2 separate regions of the Homo sapiens genome follow, and region 1 is linked to region 2. The links come from fine-mapping of genetic effects on gene expression. Tissue or cell type: fibroblasts. Region 2 holds a variant in brackets; the other region holds the start of a gene. All regions are shown on one strand. Distances are between the middles of the regions.

Evidence for each region. PIP is the estimated chance that this variant, and not a neighbour inherited with it, causes the effect.
Region 1: it holds the start of PIK3CD, and the variant in region 2 is fine-mapped to the expression of PIK3CD in fibroblasts (GTEx, PIP above 0.99). The same link has a PIP of 0.9 or more in sigmoid colon.

Annotation. Positions count from the first base shown.
Region 1 is chr1:9,647,447-9,655,621 of GRCh38, reverse strand. PIK3CD (phosphatidylinositol-4,5-bisphosphate 3-kinase catalytic subunit delta) reads right to left here and starts at 3,891. Exons shown (of 24, transcript NM_005026.5): 1 at 3,820-3,891. It overlaps PIK3CD-AS1 (PIK3CD antisense RNA 1), which reads left to right and starts at 1,036. Exons shown (of 2, transcript NR_027045.1): 1 at 1,036-1,424; 2 at 1,579-3,012. RefSeq lists enhancers at 1,649-1,698, 2,839-2,908 and a silencer at 3,089-3,978.
Region 2 is chr1:9,685,882-9,694,056 of GRCh38, reverse strand. It overlaps PIK3CD (phosphatidylinositol-4,5-bisphosphate 3-kinase catalytic subunit delta), which reads right to left. Exons shown (of 24, transcript NM_005026.5): 2 at 2,486-2,590. PIK3CD-AS2 (PIK3CD antisense RNA 2) reads left to right here and starts at 6,483. Exons shown (of 2, transcript NR_126367.1): 1 at 6,483-6,722. RefSeq lists enhancers at 3,073-3,754, 3,755-4,438, 6,559-6,728 and silencers at 4,283-4,842, 5,849-6,043, 6,369-6,508. The variant A/C (reference allele first, on the strand shown) is at 4,180.

The DNA of each region.
Region 1 (8,175 bases), 38 kb after region 2:
TGTGACTTCTGGGGAGGGAGGGGAGTTTCACGCATATCCAGCCAGTGCAGCTGGAAGGGGAACTTTCACAGGCCCTAGGGACTGTGCTGGCCCTCAGGGAGGGGAGAATGGCCGTTATTTTGGTAGGACCCACAGCAAGTCACAGTGTTTAGCTGCAATAAAAAAGGGGGGGGGGCGGGGGGTTCCTGGGTTTTTTATTTTTTCCATCTTGAAACTGGCAGCATTTCTGCTATGATTGCCGGGGATTTCCACCAACCAAACTAAAGACAACTCAGTCTTAGCGTTAACTGTAGGGAGAGAGGTGGCGTTTTGCCACCTTCGCTATTTATGAAACACTGTCACCGGTACCAAGATGACAATATTTTCCTCCCTTTCAAACAAGCCAGGCTCTGCCATCCTCCAGTGGATAGGGCCCTTCCTTGTCTCCTCCATCCCGGGGTACTGCTTCTAGACCATCTTCTCTAACAGCTTTGCTGAAAAACACACTTGTCCCCTGGGGAGTAGCTGAAGCCACCCTCCTGGCTGAAAGAGCTTTTTTTTCTTTTTTTTTTTTTTGAAATGTAGTCTCACTCTGTTGCCCAGGCTGGAGTGCAGTGGCACAATCTCAGCACACTGCAACCTCCACCTCCCGGATTGAAGCGATTCTCCTGCCTCCACCTCCCAAGTAGCTGGGATTACAGGTGCTCATCACCACGCCCAGCTAATTTTTTTTTTTTGCATTTTTCGTAGAGACAGATATTCACCATGTTGGCCAAGATGGTCTTGAACTCCTGACCTCAAGTGATCCGCCCACCTCGGCCTCCCAAAGTGCTGGAATTACAGGCGTGAGCCACCGCGCCCAGCCTGAAAGAGCCTTCTGAAGGTCCCACGTTAAGGAAACATTTGCTGGGGCCCCAAACCCCACCATCAGGCCCACACCGGCAGCTGGCCTCAGGGAGGGCGGGAACTGCTCTCTACACAAAAATGGTTTTGAAAATAACCCAGCCAAAGGGGAATTGCTTCATCCGTTGCACATTCACTTCTCCCTTTCACTGTGCAATTTAAGTAAAACAAGATGAAGCAGGAACCGACTCTCACCATCCCCACTCCCACCTCCATGAATTCCATCGGACAGTTGTGCGAAAGCGGGCTGGCTTTCGCACAACCATTGGTGGACTGTCTGTCCTGTAAGCCCCCCAGGGGCTGATGCCCTCCCAGTCTGCCTGCCCTGTTCTTAGCACAGCCCCTGGCACCCCGTGTGATCTCAGGAAACACTTGCTAAACATGGTATCGGAGGAGAAACGGAGCCCACAGCTTAGTGCAAAGACCTGGCGGCGTGGACTGAGGCTGCAGAAACGCAGAAACGCGCTTTTCCTGCCAGAAGGGGACATCTGCGTGGTCGGGAGTACCTCTGGGGCACGTGCCCTAATTCCAGAAACATCTAAGTGAGTAGTGTGGCCAATGTAGTCTGTTTCTGAACAGGGGCTGAAGGGCGGGGGAAGTGGGGCTCAGAAGGAGGCTAGCTTAGTTGTCTCTGGAGCAGGCAACTGGGTTGTTGTATTATGTTTCTCAGAGATGGGCTCTTGCTCTGTCACCCAGGCTGGAGCGCAGTGGCACTGTAATAGCTTACTGCAACCTTGAACTCCTGGCTTCAAGTGATCCTCCCGTCTGGGCCTCCCAAAGCACTGGGATGACAGGTATGAGCTACCGCTCTCAGCCACAACTGGGTTTTAAGAGCACTCCTCCAGCCCACTCCAGTGTCTTCCATCATTCTGTGAAAGCACCAAAAGAGGACCAAGCCCAGGAAGCCGCCAGCAGGCCTCTCACCAGCCAAGATGGCTGGAATCCTAATATCAAGAAATGAAACTCCAGCAGGCCATGGAAATGCTAAGGGGTTGGCATTTCTGCTCTAGAGAGAGCCAAAGAGAAAGCTCTATTTATATCTCCTTGCGTTTGGTCGCAGCCTCATCAACCAAAAGAACCTTCCGCCCCACTCAACACATCAATCAAATTGGGGAGGGGGTGTGAACAGCAGCAGCGGGTGTTACAGAGGAGTCTCAAGGGTATCTTAGAGGGTGCCTCTCTGAACAGTCGTCCCCTCCAAATCCCCCCCAAGAGAATTACTAGGACATTCTCCTTCCCCCGCAAGCAACGGCACCCCCAGATGATTAAACGCGCTGGCGTCGGAAAGAGCTGGGATCCTGGAGAAACTACTTGTAAACTGTGTGGGTTGGTGAGTTATTTAACTTTTCTGAGCCTTCGTTTCCTTAACTGTAAAATGAAGACAACACCACTCAGCTCCTACAGTTGTCCAGCTGAAATCACCTAGGTAAGAACGACCAGTTCTTTGGGGAGTAATGTCCCGATGGTACCATTCAATTGTCAAGAACACCAAGGCACCGTCAGGCACCCGGGCGGTATCCCACTCTCCTGGAAGAGAGCAGGGGGTTAGCCCTTGGTTTCAAAGTCCCTAGGGAGCAGTAAACCTTCCCCTCCGAGAGCCCTGAGAGAGGAATAATTGCCCCTTCCCACTCCAACCCACGGCACACCCGCCCACATCCACGTGCGGCTGTGCCCAGCATCTCAGAGGTAGGACTTCTCAGGAATCGGCGGGAAGAAGCCCCCTTGATGGAGTCTGGTGGGGTTCAAGATCTGCAGGTCCCACCTTCCAGGGAACACCTGCACAAGTGAGACCTGCCCGATCAGCCCCGCGCTCCATCCGCAAACTGGGCAGATCCCAAGGGTGCCACGCGAGGACCCTGCACCTTGGCCGCTCCAGGGCGCCCCCCACCCGCGACCCCGGAAATCTCGCCCCTACCTGCTTCACCCTCGCCCCACCCACAGCGCACTTTTCGGGACCTCCCAGCGGCCCTTCCCCGGTTCTCTGGACCCCCGTCTCCCCGCCCTGCAACGCCCCCATCCTGGTGCCCACGAAAGGTCGTCCCAGTTCCCCTCTTCTCTACCTCAAAGGAGGAGGTGCAAATGAGGAAGCCTAAATAAAAACAGGAAACTCGATTTTTTTAAAAAGCCTCATTCAGGCTGAATTACGGGTAAGAGTATTTTTTTAAAAAGTCCGGAAATGCAAAGCTGGGGGCGGTTTTGCCGGCGTAACCCCGGCTCGGCCGCAGATCCGGAGCTGATCTCGCCTGCGCCGCTGCAGCAAACGCGGCGAGCAACGCGGGAGGCCCGGGACTGGGAGGCGGGGCGCGGGTCCACGAGCCGGGAGGAAGCCCCGAAAACTTCCACCCCGGCCCCTCTGCAGCCCCGCTCCCCACTTGCCCAGGCTGGGAAGGGCGCACAGGACCCGGGCGCCGGCGAACTGTGCGCAGCCCTCTCTCCGCGCCAGGGCACTCGGGCGACATCACCAGCGCGCTCTCTGTGGACCCCGCTGCCGTACAGAGGAGGCCCCTGGTCCTCTAGTCAGCGCTCGGAGCGGGCGCACGCGCTGAGCGCTTCCAGTATCCTCGCGCCTCAGCCGGCGCACCGGAGGCCGCACCGCCGCTGTGAGCGCAGCTGAAACCCCGCTGCCGGGCCAGGCGGGCAAGGCGCGCAGTGCAGGCGCCGGGGAGCTGCGCACGCCCCTCTCGGCGGGCCCACGGGGGACGGCCCCGGGCCTCTAGGGCAGCCCCCGCCCAGGTCCCAGCAGCCCGGCCCCCGGGGCTCCCAGGACCCGGCTCGCTAGACTCGGGGAGGCGCCCAGGGCCAGGGCGCACGGGCTGTGTGTGCCGGAGAGACGCCCGCCAGCCAGCCCCGCGCCCCCGAGCGCAGCCGCAGCTCCCAAAGCCCCTGGCCGCGGTCCTCTTCCCACCTCCCCTGACGCAGCCAGCGGCGATCGCTTACCGTCCCGGCGCAGCTGGCAGGGCTGGGCGGCTCTGCTCGCGGCCGCTCGGAGCGACTGCGCTGGGCGCGAGTGAGCCTCGAGGGAGGGAGGCGGGGCGCGCCGGGGCGCCCCGCCTGCCGCCAACCCGCACACTCCACTTCCCACTTTGTTTCCTTTTCACTTGCAACAGGAAAAACAACAGGTCCTCCAGGGCCTCGCCTTCCCCCGCCGCCCACACTCCCCAGTTCGCCTACCGCTAGAGGGGCATCATCCCAGGTGCCTCTGGAAGCTGCACCTTGCTTGCCCTTCTACAAAACAAGTTTTCTTTTTATGCAAAGGAAAACAACGAAATAAAGGTCCTAGGCGCCTTTAAGCGCTCCGCCTTCACGCAGGAAAGAATTTCAGCAGGAGCGGGAGAAAGGCTGAGAGCAGGAGAAGAAGAGGGGGTAACCTGCAGCTCTAGGCACCCAGGGACCCCAAGCGCCATTGCGAGGTGACCAGTGTTGGGGCTCAGGACACACACCCAAAATGTGACTATGGGAGACCAGCGTGTGCCACCCCAAAATATACTTCTTCGCCATATTTTGAAGGGATTATTCTTAGAAACTGCAGGCACAGGAGTAGATCTGAAAAGCTGTCCTTTTGTAAAATGATTTCTATCTATAAAGAAAATCTCCAGGCCTGGCACTGTGGCTCACTCCTGCAATCCCAGCAATTTGGGAGGCCGAGGCGGGAGGATCACTTGAGCCCAGGAATTCAAGCCAGCCTGGGCAACATAGGGAAACCCCCGTCTCTACAAAAAAATTAAAAATTAGCCAGTCGTGGTGGTGCACACCTTGTAGTCCCAGCTACTCGGGAGGCTGAGGTGGGAGGATGGCTTGAGCCAGGGAAATGGAGGCTGCAGTGATCCATGATGGCACCACTGCACTCCAGCCTGGGAAACAAAGTGAGACCCTGTCTCAAAAACAGAAAAGAAAAGGAAAATCTCCATTGGTAAAGTATTAGTATCAGGCGGAGGGCTGCTCAGAGCTAACTTTTCTTACCTGAGAAATTTTATCCGCATAAGAAGACAAGCTTCATTCACCTTACCCTCTCTCCCCTCACTCTCCCTTAACTTGTGTACCACCTCCCCAGGATCCCAAGCCTCTATTCCTTTTTTTCTTTTCTTTTCTTTCTTTTTCTTTTTTCTTTTCTTTTTTTTGAGACAGTCTTGCTCTGTTGTCCAGGCTGGAATGCAGTGGTGCCATCTCGGCTCACTGCAATCTCTGCATCCTGGGTTCAAGCAATTCTCCTACCTCAGCCTCCCAAGTAGCTGGGATTACAGGCACACGCCACGACACCCAGCTGATTTTCATGTTTTTTTGTTTGTTTTTTGTTGTTTTGTTTCTTTGTTTTGTTTATTTTGAGGAATCTTGTTCTGTTGCCCAGGCTGGAGTGCAGTGGCGTGATCTTGGCTCACCACAGCCTCAGCCTCCTGGGTTCAAGCAATTCTCCTGCCTCAGCCTCCTGAGTAGCTGGGACTATAGGTGCACACCACCGTGCCTGGCTAATTTTTGTATTTTTAGTAGAGGTGGGGTTTCGCCATGTTCACCAGGCTGGTCTTGAACTCCTGACCTCATGATCCACCCGCCTCAGGCTCCCAAAGTGCTGGGATTACAGGCGTGAACCACCACACCTGACCCAAGCCCTATTCCTTTCTGAAGGAATGTTTCCTGTCCCTTGTAGGATGTTATATGAGCTTTATTCATCTGAGCCTTCATCCAGTCTTGTATTTTGTGGGATTCCCATGCATAGGTCTTAGTTACACATGGTTTTTCTCTTGTTAATCTGCCTTATGTAAATTTAATGTGGAGCCCAGCCAAGGAATTTAGAGGGTAGAGGGAGGCCACTCTCTCCTCCCCTACAGCAGGCATGACTGAGAGGCTCGGGGAGACAGCCCAGGGCCTAAGTCCCTCCTTGCTCAGCCCTGGGTTGACAGCAGCGACCTCCAGGCTTTGGTGGACCAAGAGTATGGGGGTGGTGGGTGAGCCCACCCCTGAGATTACAACAGTGGCTTCATGCCCTCCCAGGATAGGGTGAAGGGTGAGCCAGTCAATTGCTTAGTGAAACAATGGCTTAAAGGACCCTCTTCAATCCAGCCTGGGAAGTAAAGCAGCTGTTATTGGTCCCTTGGACAGATGAGGGATCTGAGGCTTAGAGAAGGACTTTTTCTACCCAAGAGATGCCTGGGCCTCTCAGGACCACCTTGGGCCCCGTGCTGGCTCCAGAGGCTGCAATAAGCAGAGGCCCAGGCCAGGCATGATGGCTCAGGCCTGTAGTCCCAGCACTTTGGGAGGACGAGGCTGGAGGATCCCTTGAGGCCAGGAGTTTGAGACCAGCCTGGGTGATATGGCAAAACCCAGTCTCTACAAAAAAATAGAAAAAATTAGCCGGGTTTAGTGGTGTGCACCTGTAGTTCCAGATTCTCGGGAGGCTGAGGTGGGAGGATCACCTGAGCCCTGGAGGTTGAGACTGCAGTGAGCCATAACTGTGCCACTGCACTCCAGCCTGGGTGATGGAGTGAGATTCTGCTTTGAAAAAAAAAGAAAAAGAGCGAGAGAGAGGCCCAGAGGCCGTTATTCCAGCCAGGAAAGGGGAGAGGGCTTGGGTAAGATGGAGTGGCTTGCTCAATTGTTCCAGTTTTTTTTGTTTTTGCTTTTTTTGTTTGTTTGTTTGTTTGTTGAGACAGGGTCTTGCTCTGTCACCCAGGCTGGAGTGCAGTGGCATGATCTTGGCTCACTGCCACCTTGGCCTCCCGGGTTCAAGCGACTCTCATGCCTCAGCCTCCCAAGTAGCTGGGACTGCAGATGCGTGCCACCATGGCTGGTTAATTTTTGTATTTTTTAGTAGAGACGAGGTTTCACCATGTTGGCCAGGCTGGTCTCACACTCAGGCCTCGGGTGATCTGCCCGCCTCAGCCTCCCAAAGTGCTGGGATTACAGGCATAAGCCACTGCGCCCGGCCTGGTCCAGGTTTTCTAAGATGCAGGCTGCAGATTCTGTGTTCTCCAGTGGACACTTGCAGAGGAGCCAGGAAGGACCACAGGTCCCTTTTGGAAGGAACGTTGGGCCTGTCCCCAGGAATGCACACTAGTATATCCTTTCTAGTGGAGTGTCTGAGGCTCACAGCCTCTTGCTTACCCCAGGCTCAGATTACTGAGCCTTAGCAGCGGTCTCTAGCCTGTTTCAAGGATGCCAAGAGCCAGAAGACAAATGGACGTTTCAGAAGGAACTCTGACGGCCGAGTGAGCAGCCTGTCCTGAGGGAGCGGCCCGTCCTAAGGTTTCCTAACACCTGGCCTTAACCATGCTTTTGCTAGGCTGCACTTTCAACGCTGCCCTCTGGTCTTTAGAGTTTGTTTCAAGAAACAGCCAGATGACGAATGGTTTTGCATCTTCCAAAGGAATTCTTCATTGAATATGTATTTGCTGACAGCAATTCAAATCATGCTTTTTACTATGCAAGATGCTGCCGGGAGAATGGAGGCATGCCAAGTTGTCAAGCGCTAAGATGTGCCTTACATATTGTTCTCTTTGATCCCCATGAAGGAAACCAGAATATGTCCCCCCAAAATATACCTCTTTGACGTAAATATTTTTGAACTTAAGGCAATTAAGAAGCAGCAGGCAGATGAAGAGATCTTTCTATCATCTCCCCTTTTCTGCCTGTTAAATAAAATTTGCAGGAGGCCATTGATTGGGACAAGACCCCTGTACCGGGTCCAACAGACCAAACCAATATGGAGTCATTCATGGTAAATGAAACTAATTAACTTAAGAGTATATACATGTAGCAAATAGCTGAGTTTTTGTCAGTTATAGCAGCTGAGCTTTAGTAGATCTTAGGTGGCCAACTGATTCAAACAAAGCAAACACTGTAACCAATTAAGCTCTATAGCTTACTTCTGTTTTACATCCATAAACACTCTGACTGTGTTACTGGCTGAAGCCCTTTGAACCTGTCCTGGTTCTGAGGGACTCCCAATTTTAGACTCATTAGTAGGCCAGGATGACTCACACCTGGAATTCCAACACTTTGGGAGGCTGGGGCTAGAGGATCAAGACCAGCCTGAGCAACATAGTGAGACCTCATCTTTACAAAAAATAAAACATTAGCCAGGCATGGTGGCATGTGCCTGTAGTTTTAGCTACTTGGGAGGCTGAGGTAGAAGGAGGATCCCTTGAGCCCAGAAATTCAAGGTTGCAGTGAGCTGTGATCTCACCTCTGCAATCCAGCCTGGGTGACAAAGTGAGACCACGTCTCTAATAATAATAATAATAATAATAATAATAATAATAATAATTAGAATCATGAATAAAAGTTAAGATCTGTAAACTA
Region 2 (8,175 bases):
CCATGCAGTGCCTCTGCTGCCCTGGGCTGGGCCAACCTCTCTGAAAACACTGCCTGCCGGAAACCTGCCACCTGCTGGGGTGGGGAAGGGAACCATCTGGCTATGTGGCCTGGGGGGGTGGTCTGTCACCCTACCATGCTCTTTCAAGTAATCTTCCTGCTTCCAGCCCACCCTGCACACACCACCTTTCGAAGCACTCCATCCCCAGAGCCCCCATTCCTTTGCCTTTTCCACCTGCCTCCCCCATGGCCCAAGACATTGGACATTCTCCACTCAGCTTCCCTCTCGCCTATCGGTTTCCTGTCCTGCAAAGGTTTTGTTCATACCACCCTCCTCAACCATTTACTTTTCTAGTTTTTTTTTTTTAAGAATTTACATTTTTTCTTATTCCTTTACTTTCATTTTAGTGGGATTTTGAAACAGAGCAGAGAAATACATATATGTTCGATTGTTATGTTTATGTCAAAGTCTATAATAATACTTACTAATAAATAAAAGTCAAGTTTTAAAAGGTGCAGACACAGGTCAGGGCGTGGAGGCTGACGCCTGTAATCCCAGCTCTTTGGGAGGCTGAGGCAGGTGGATCCCTTGAGGTCAGGAGTTCGAGACCAGCCTGGCCAACATGGCAAAACCATGTCTCTACTGAAAAAAAAAAACCACAAAAATTAGCTGGGCATGGTGGCGCACACCTGTAGTCCCAGCTACTTGGGAGGCTGAGGCAGAAGAATCGCTTGAACCCGGGAGGCGGAGGTGGCAGTGAGCTGAGATTGCATCACTGCACTCCAGCCTGGGTGACAGAGCAAGACTCCATCTCAAAAAAATTAAGTAAATAAATAAATAATAAATAAAAGCTACAGACAGAATTCTCTCTGAGGGGTTTGGGGGAGGATACTCCAACGAGGAAACAGTGGTTTTCTCTGGTGCGGGGTGGGGTGGCGGTAAGATGATAGACGAGTATGCTTGTATGTTTTTGGTATTTTCCAAACTTGACACTAATTTCCTATTTTTATAAATAAAAAAGCATGAGGATTAAAAATATTATTAAAAGGCATTTTCTGAGACAAAGATCAAGTCAGTATAAATAGATGTGTGGAAGAAATTCTAATCCTCCAACAGGGGTCTACATGATCTATGGCTTTTGCTTATGTGCAGGGGAGCGCTGGGGTTCCAAAGAAGCACCCCAGGCCTTCAGAGGTAGGTGGGAGTGGGACAGGGTGCTGAGCAGAAGGAGTTCTGGGCTAGTTTCTCTTACAGTGGCTGTTTTGATCTGGTTTATAGGTTAAAATTCTGCTTTATATTTTGATTTATTTTATTTATTTATTTTTTTGAGACGGAGTCTCACTCTGTCACCCAGGCTGGAGTGCAGTGGTGTGATCTCGGCTCACTGCAACCTCCGCCTCCTGGGTTCAAGTGATTCTCCTGCCTCAGCCTCTCGAGTAGCTGGGATTACAGGTGCCCACCACTACGCCCAGCTAATTTTTTGTATTTTTAGTAGAGACAGGGTTTCACCATGTTGGTTGGCCAGGCTGGTCTCGAACTCCTGACCTCGTGATTCGCCCACCTTGGCCTCCCAAAGTGCTAGGATTACAGGCATGAGCCACGGCACCCGGCCTATATTTTGATTTTTAAAAAGAGATCCGCAATCATCAAACAAGTTTGGAAAGTACCAATGAAGATCTAGAGAAAATGAGGCTGAGGTTGGGGAAAAAGCCTTTAAGGACGCCACCGCGCTCTAACCCCTGCCCCTTTCCATCCTGAAATGACAGTAGCGTCTCCAGTGGAATTCTGGGTACACACAGAATATGTTATGCACCCAGAGAGCTTGCAAGGGGACCGGCAGGTCTCGCAGTCATGGAGCTCCCAAGCCAGACCCAGCTATTCCAGGCCCCCAGATGGGTGTGGTAGCCAACGTCCAGCCAGTGTCGGTCTCTGGCCTCAGTGTCCTCATTTGCACCATGAAAGGACTGCATTCATCTTCTAAGCTAATGTCCTAGAAACTCTGAAGAGCATCCTCTTACTGAGACAGTGACTGCCAGCTCTCTGAAGACACAGAACGGCCCCACCTAGGGACTCCTTGAGAAGCAACACTGAATTATAAAAATTCAATCCATTTCCTCCAGAAAACTTTTAATATTTCTCTCCCCAGTCAGGCGAGTCCAACGCTACCGTGGCCAGTGTGAGTCAAATACCAAATGCTGCAGCTTAGTAATGGGCTCCAGGACTCCTCAAAGCAAAGCCATTCCTTCTTTTCCCAGGCAGCAGCATCTCTCTCCTGGGAATGGCTGAGGTCTAGTTCACTTCCCCATTCATTCGCTCCTAGCACCAATTTGGGTCACTCTCTTCCTCTGGGTGTGCTAGTCCTACAGAGAAGTCTTCCTTTGGCTGGAGAGTCGGGGAGGATGGGTTTGTTCACATTCTTAACCTATCTACAAAATAACATCTCCTTTCCCTTCCCCCACACACTTGGCCCGTTCCCCCAACCTACCTCTCTGGAATAGTCCAAGAAAGACCAGCAAAGCCCCCTCCGCCTGGCAGATTAAAGATGCTTTAGAATCAATGAGTGTCATCCCGCCCTGGCCTGACTCCTTATCTGTTGGGGAAAAGAAAGAAAGAAAGAAAGAAAACTATTTTAACAAGAGAGAATTTCAGAAACCTGTGCATTCTCTTACAGGACGTTAGCTCAAAATCAACTGCTTCATCTAGGTCTCTCCTTTTTGCAAACCAATCACATTCCACTTGATCGGCCTTTCTTGCCATCTGCGTCAATGCCACCCCCAGCTCCCTTTGGTGGTACTGAAACCAACCACAGGAGCATTTCCAGTGCCTGGAGCAGGAATGTGCACTCAGATGACTCAGATCGTTTTTAGAGCTGTTTGTTGGTTTTGTTTGGTTTTTTGAAAGCAAAGTAATTGATCTGAGCCAAGCCTGGGTTCGAGTTCCATTCGATGGATGCAAAAAGCAGGTTGGTGAACTTGAAATCTTTATTCCCCATGTGGATCTGTTTTCAAGGCCCAGGTCTAAAGGAAAATTCATGCCCTATTGGGCTGGAGATAAAAAGGAAGAGTGTGAGGGGAGGGGCCGCCCACTCCTTGCATCTGTGGTGCTTCTTCCCCCACCTCAGCCGCTCCAGGAAATAACAGAACCCCAAAGAGGGAAAAAAGACACTAGAGCTCCAGCCCAGTCTAAAGACCCAACCCCTTCTCCCAACCCCAGGCCCTGGGCATAGCTACCTCCACAGCTGGGAGCCTTCGGCCCAGAGCCCACTAGGTGGGCTTCGATTTAGCACAACACCAAAACCACCGGCTTCTCCATGAGTCAAACAGCAGAGCCCTAGGAACCCGCTGGAAAAGGCATGGGTTGCAGGAACACATCTCCCAAGGACCAAGCTGGAGTCCTCCCTGCGGCCTCTATCCCTGCAAAGATGCTCCGGGGACCCTGCTGCGGGAGCCCAGGCATGCGGGCTCGGATGCTCCCTTCCCTCAAAATCCAGGGGACAGTGGCAAGCACTTCGCAAGGCACTGCCACCAGAGAAACAGGAGGTCAGCACCAAAGGCTAAGGAAGAAATCCCTTCCATTGCTGACCAATTAAGTGACTGGCCAATACCCGTTACCACGACAAATTATAGTAGCTCTGGCACAGGGAAATGAGACAGGATCATAAGGAAAGCCCTTTCAAAACAGGAAAAACAAAGCCAAAAGCAGAGGGAGCCGAGAAGGAAGAGAAGGAGAGAATTCATCCTCAGGAATTCGGGTCAGGAAATAAGGAGCCAGGACAAAATCCACAAGAGGGCGGCCAGGGAGAAGGCGCTCCCCCGGGGAGGAAGCCGCAGGACCTCAGGATCTGGGTCTGCCACCCTCTAGCCCCCTTGGGCTCAAGGGCACAGCTCGGGAGGGACAGAGCGCAGGAGGCTCCGTCCCGAATAGGGGGCAGGGGGAGGGGAGGACGCGCACAGCCACTGCTGGGTCCCCGACAAGTAAACAGCCTGCCCCGAACAGGCGCGTCCTCGTGCGAAGCCCGCTGGAGGCCTCACGGATCCCATCAAGGGCGGCAGCGGAGAAACCTGGGATTCCTGACCCCCGGGGGGCACAAAAGGAAGCAACCAGATTAGGAGAGGAGAGCGTCGCGCGGCCCATAGCTGAGAATCCCACCGCGAACGCAACCCCCTGCCTCGGCCCCCC[A/C]AGCCCCCACGGCCCCGGACCCCTGATCGCCTCCACCGACCCTGCCCACCCCGCCCCAGGCGGACAAAGCCCGGGGCTGGGCGGGGTGGGACGCCCGGCGGGGCTGGGGGCGGGGCACGGGGACCCCGCAGACGCCCGCACAGGTGGGCTCCGTACCGGGTGTCGCTGCCGGGGGCGGGGCCCGATCTCCCTGGAGACAGTTGCCCAGGGGACACAGCGGGCGGGTCCCGGAGTGACGGGAAGACGCCAGCCTCCGGGCAGCGGCGCGGGGCCGGCGGGGGCCGGAGGGCAGGCCCGCCGCGCGAGGTGCAGGCAAGCGGGGCTCGGCGGAGGGGCGCGGCCCGGGGCGGGGCTGGGACTACTGGCAGGCGGGGCGGGGCGCCGGCTGGGGGCGGGGCGTCCTCGGGGCTGGGGCGGGGCCGGGGCCGGCGGCGGCGCGGGCACCGTCGGCAAATTCTCACACCCCCAGCCGGGAGAAGCGCCCGAGCTCACACGGGCGGCGGAGAGAGGAGTGGACGCTGCAAATCCTCCCCGACCCCCGCTGTTCTCGCCCGGAGGCCCAGGACGCTGCCAGGCGGGGCCCTTGGGGTTCGCACCCTGAGCCCCAGAGCAGCCGCGGGACCCCGACGGCGCGCGCACGCTGGCTCTGGCCTAGGTTTCACCTTACAATCAATAAATAGAAAGCGCCACCTGCAAAGCAAGGGAGGGCTGGTCGTCCACCAAACTGCTTTCCGCTCCCCGCTTTGCAAGGCATCCGCAGAAAGGGCGGGGTACTGGACCCAGGTCACAGAGCCGGAGCCAGACTCACTCGAGTAATTGGCCAGCCCGGGCTCTGGGCTCAAATCCAGCCTGCTGGCTGTTCCCTAGCTGATGGGCCTTTCCATCGGGGGTTCCCTTATATGTGAGATTTAGAAAATAAATGAGTGTACCTAGCACTTTCACTAATGCATCTATCCATTACAACGGGCGGTGTGCGTGCAGTAACAACACCGAGACAATCCTTGTCCCGCACTTAAAAAAAACTCTGGGCGCTCCAGTGTTTTTGTTTTTGAGACAGGGTCTTGCTCTGTTGCCCTGGCTGGGGTGCAGTGGTGCGATCATAGCTCACTGTAGCCTCTACCTCTCTGGCTCAATCGATCCTCTCACCCCAGCCTCCCGTGTAGCTGAGACCTCAAGTGCGCACCACCTCACTCAGCTAATTTTTTAAAATTTTTTGTAGAGGCGGGGGTCTAACTATGTTGCCTACGCTGGTCTCGAACTCCTGGGCTCAAGCCATCCTACCGCGTCAGCCTCCCAAAGTGCTCGGCCAGGCGCTCCAGTTTTTATCCAGGCATCTACACTGTAAGATAGATGTTGTTCTCCCTTGGTTGTAAGTGGGGAAGCCGAAGCTAGGCGGGCAGGGACTCTCACCCTCACGTACTCACACAAACACTGTCTGCACAGCCTCTTGGGCAGAGCTAGCGCTGGCACCAGTTTAGTTTGGTGCTGAAACCATACCCCTCTTGCTCTGCAAGAGCCCATCTCCCCTTAGAATATTCTTTCGGGTCCACAGCCCAAGACAAACCTTTGCCACAGGGGAACGCAGAGGAGGAAGCGGGGTGCGAGCACCAGAATCAGCCCTGGCGTGTCCCGCGGGGTGGTAGAAGGTGGTTTGAAGAACACTCCTTGGTGGTCCTAATTGCTGCACGTGAGGTCAAGGCAGGGCCGCCCATCCCAGGCAGATGAGCTCCAGGAGCCTTCCTCGTGCCTGAGAAGACGGCAAGGAGAAAACACTGCCGGCTGGAAGCCCTCGAGAATCTCGAAGAAGCCCAGAATGAAAGGACCAGGCGGCCGGGACTCGGAGCTCCCTAGCCAGGGCGCGCGCAGCCAGGCCTGACGCTTCCCTCCGCCCTCGGCGGCCTCTGCGTCCTCCCAGCACCCGGCAGCCTTGCCAGGGGTCCCGGATGCCCAGAGCACCCCCCAAGGAGGAGAGAGAAGAGAGGGAGTCCAGGATGAGAAGACGGGGGGCCAGGGTGGGAGGGGACACTCCTCTTCCCTGGCCGTCCCTAGAAGTCACACACAGACATTCACTCAAAAAGACACGCATGCAGATGCGCACACACAGACACAGGCGCAATCATGTAAACGGACACACAGAGACCACAGACGCTCGTGCTCATACACGCGCTCTCGCTCTTCACACCCTGCACCAGGTGGGCACTCACCCGCCCGCACCCTGGCTGTGCTTTCACAGATCCCGGGAGAGGGCGGAGCCCGGGCCGGGGGCTGGAGACCGCCCCCGGCCCCGCCCCCACGCCCTCCCATCTCTCCCTCCTTCCTGCCGTCCCCCGCCTGAGGGAGGGGAGCGGTGCAGCAGACATCCGAGGGCAGCTGGGACCCCCTGACTCAGCCGACGGGTGAGTCAGGCTCCCTGCAGGCCACACCGGACCCCCCCAGGGCGGGGATTTCCCCAAGATGAGAAATCAGCCACCGGAAGTCACGCCGGACCTTGGACGGGCAGACAGAGGCTGGGAGGAGTTCTGGGTGCAGAGCCCCCCAACCTGGTAAGTACAATGATCCCAGGGCTAGGACACCAACGAGATTTTCCAAAGGGCAGACGAGCTTCAGCGGTTCCTCCACCCCCATTCCCCACGTGTGGGAGCCCTCCTCCCTAGCGGCCCCGTCCTGCAATCGTCCCCCTGCGCGAAGACTTCCGTTTATCTCCAGCATGGATGGAGGGAAAGTCAAGCTCAAACACAAGGTCCCCATCAGCAATGGAACCCAATGATCCGCTGGGGGTTCAAATTGGGGGTGTCAGGCACGGGTGTCTCTGGAGCCCAGAGAAAAATCCAAGATTCTTTGAAATGGCAAAAGCCCCCAAAAGTGACTTTCTTGTATTGCCACGATGAACTGGAACTGCCCTGACAAACTCTAAAAAGATAGAGACCTTAATAAATTGTGTAGAGAAGAATTAAAAGAGTGAATACAGATGCATGGAAAATCTCTAGAACAGTGCCTGGCACTCATATTAAGTATTGGCTCTCACACATGGATAACAGACACAAGGAGACCAAGTGACTTGCCCCAGGTGGCACAACTAGTTAGTGGCAGAGATGGAGGAAAAACCAGTCTCTGATTCTTTGTTCACAGCTCAGGTACCTTCAGTCCTTTCTGAAATTAAGTGAGAGTATAAATAAAGTCATTTAGTGGATAAATGAATTTTACCACTGTTAAATATCAGAGTAGACCTGGCACAGTGGCTCACGCCTGTAGTCCCAGCACTTTGGGAGGCCAGGGCAGGAGGATCACTTGAGCCCAGGAGTTCAAGACCAGCCTGGGCCACACAGTGAGACCCCCGTCTCTATTTTAAAAAGAAAAGAAAAATCAGAGTAAATTAAGGCGGGCACGGTGGCTCACGCCTGTAATCTCAGCACTTTGCGAGGCCGAGGTGGGAGGATCATTTAAGGCCAGGAGTTTAAGAACAACCTGGGCAAAACAGTGAGACCTCGTCTCTACTAAAAAAAAAAAAAAAAGAAAATTAGCCTGGCATGGTGGCATTTGCCTGTAGTCCTAGCTACTTAGGAGGCCAAGGGAGAAGGATTGCTTGGCCCAGAAGTCTGCGGTGAGCTATGATGGAGCCAAGAAATTAGATTCCTGCTCCTCTACTTGCTACTAAAAGGGCCAATCCTCTTGTTAAATCCCAAAACATAAGGCAGGAAACCAAATGAGCCTCTGCTCCCACTCATTGGAGCCCTTGTTCCCTTCAAGGAGCCCTAGAAGATGGAAGAGTATTTGCTGCATCAGTCACTTCTCCCTCTCCTGACACTTTGTGATGTGTGATTTCATCACACTTTTGCTGTGATGAAATCTCAGCTTCTCCCAAATGCTCACCAATATCCTAGCCTCCAACCTGGCTGGAATTCTGCTATTCTCTTTCTAACTCAAATTGGCATTCAGCATTTCTAGGTGTGGTCAGGTAAGACACCACTGCTGAGTGGGGACAAGACCAGGAAGGCT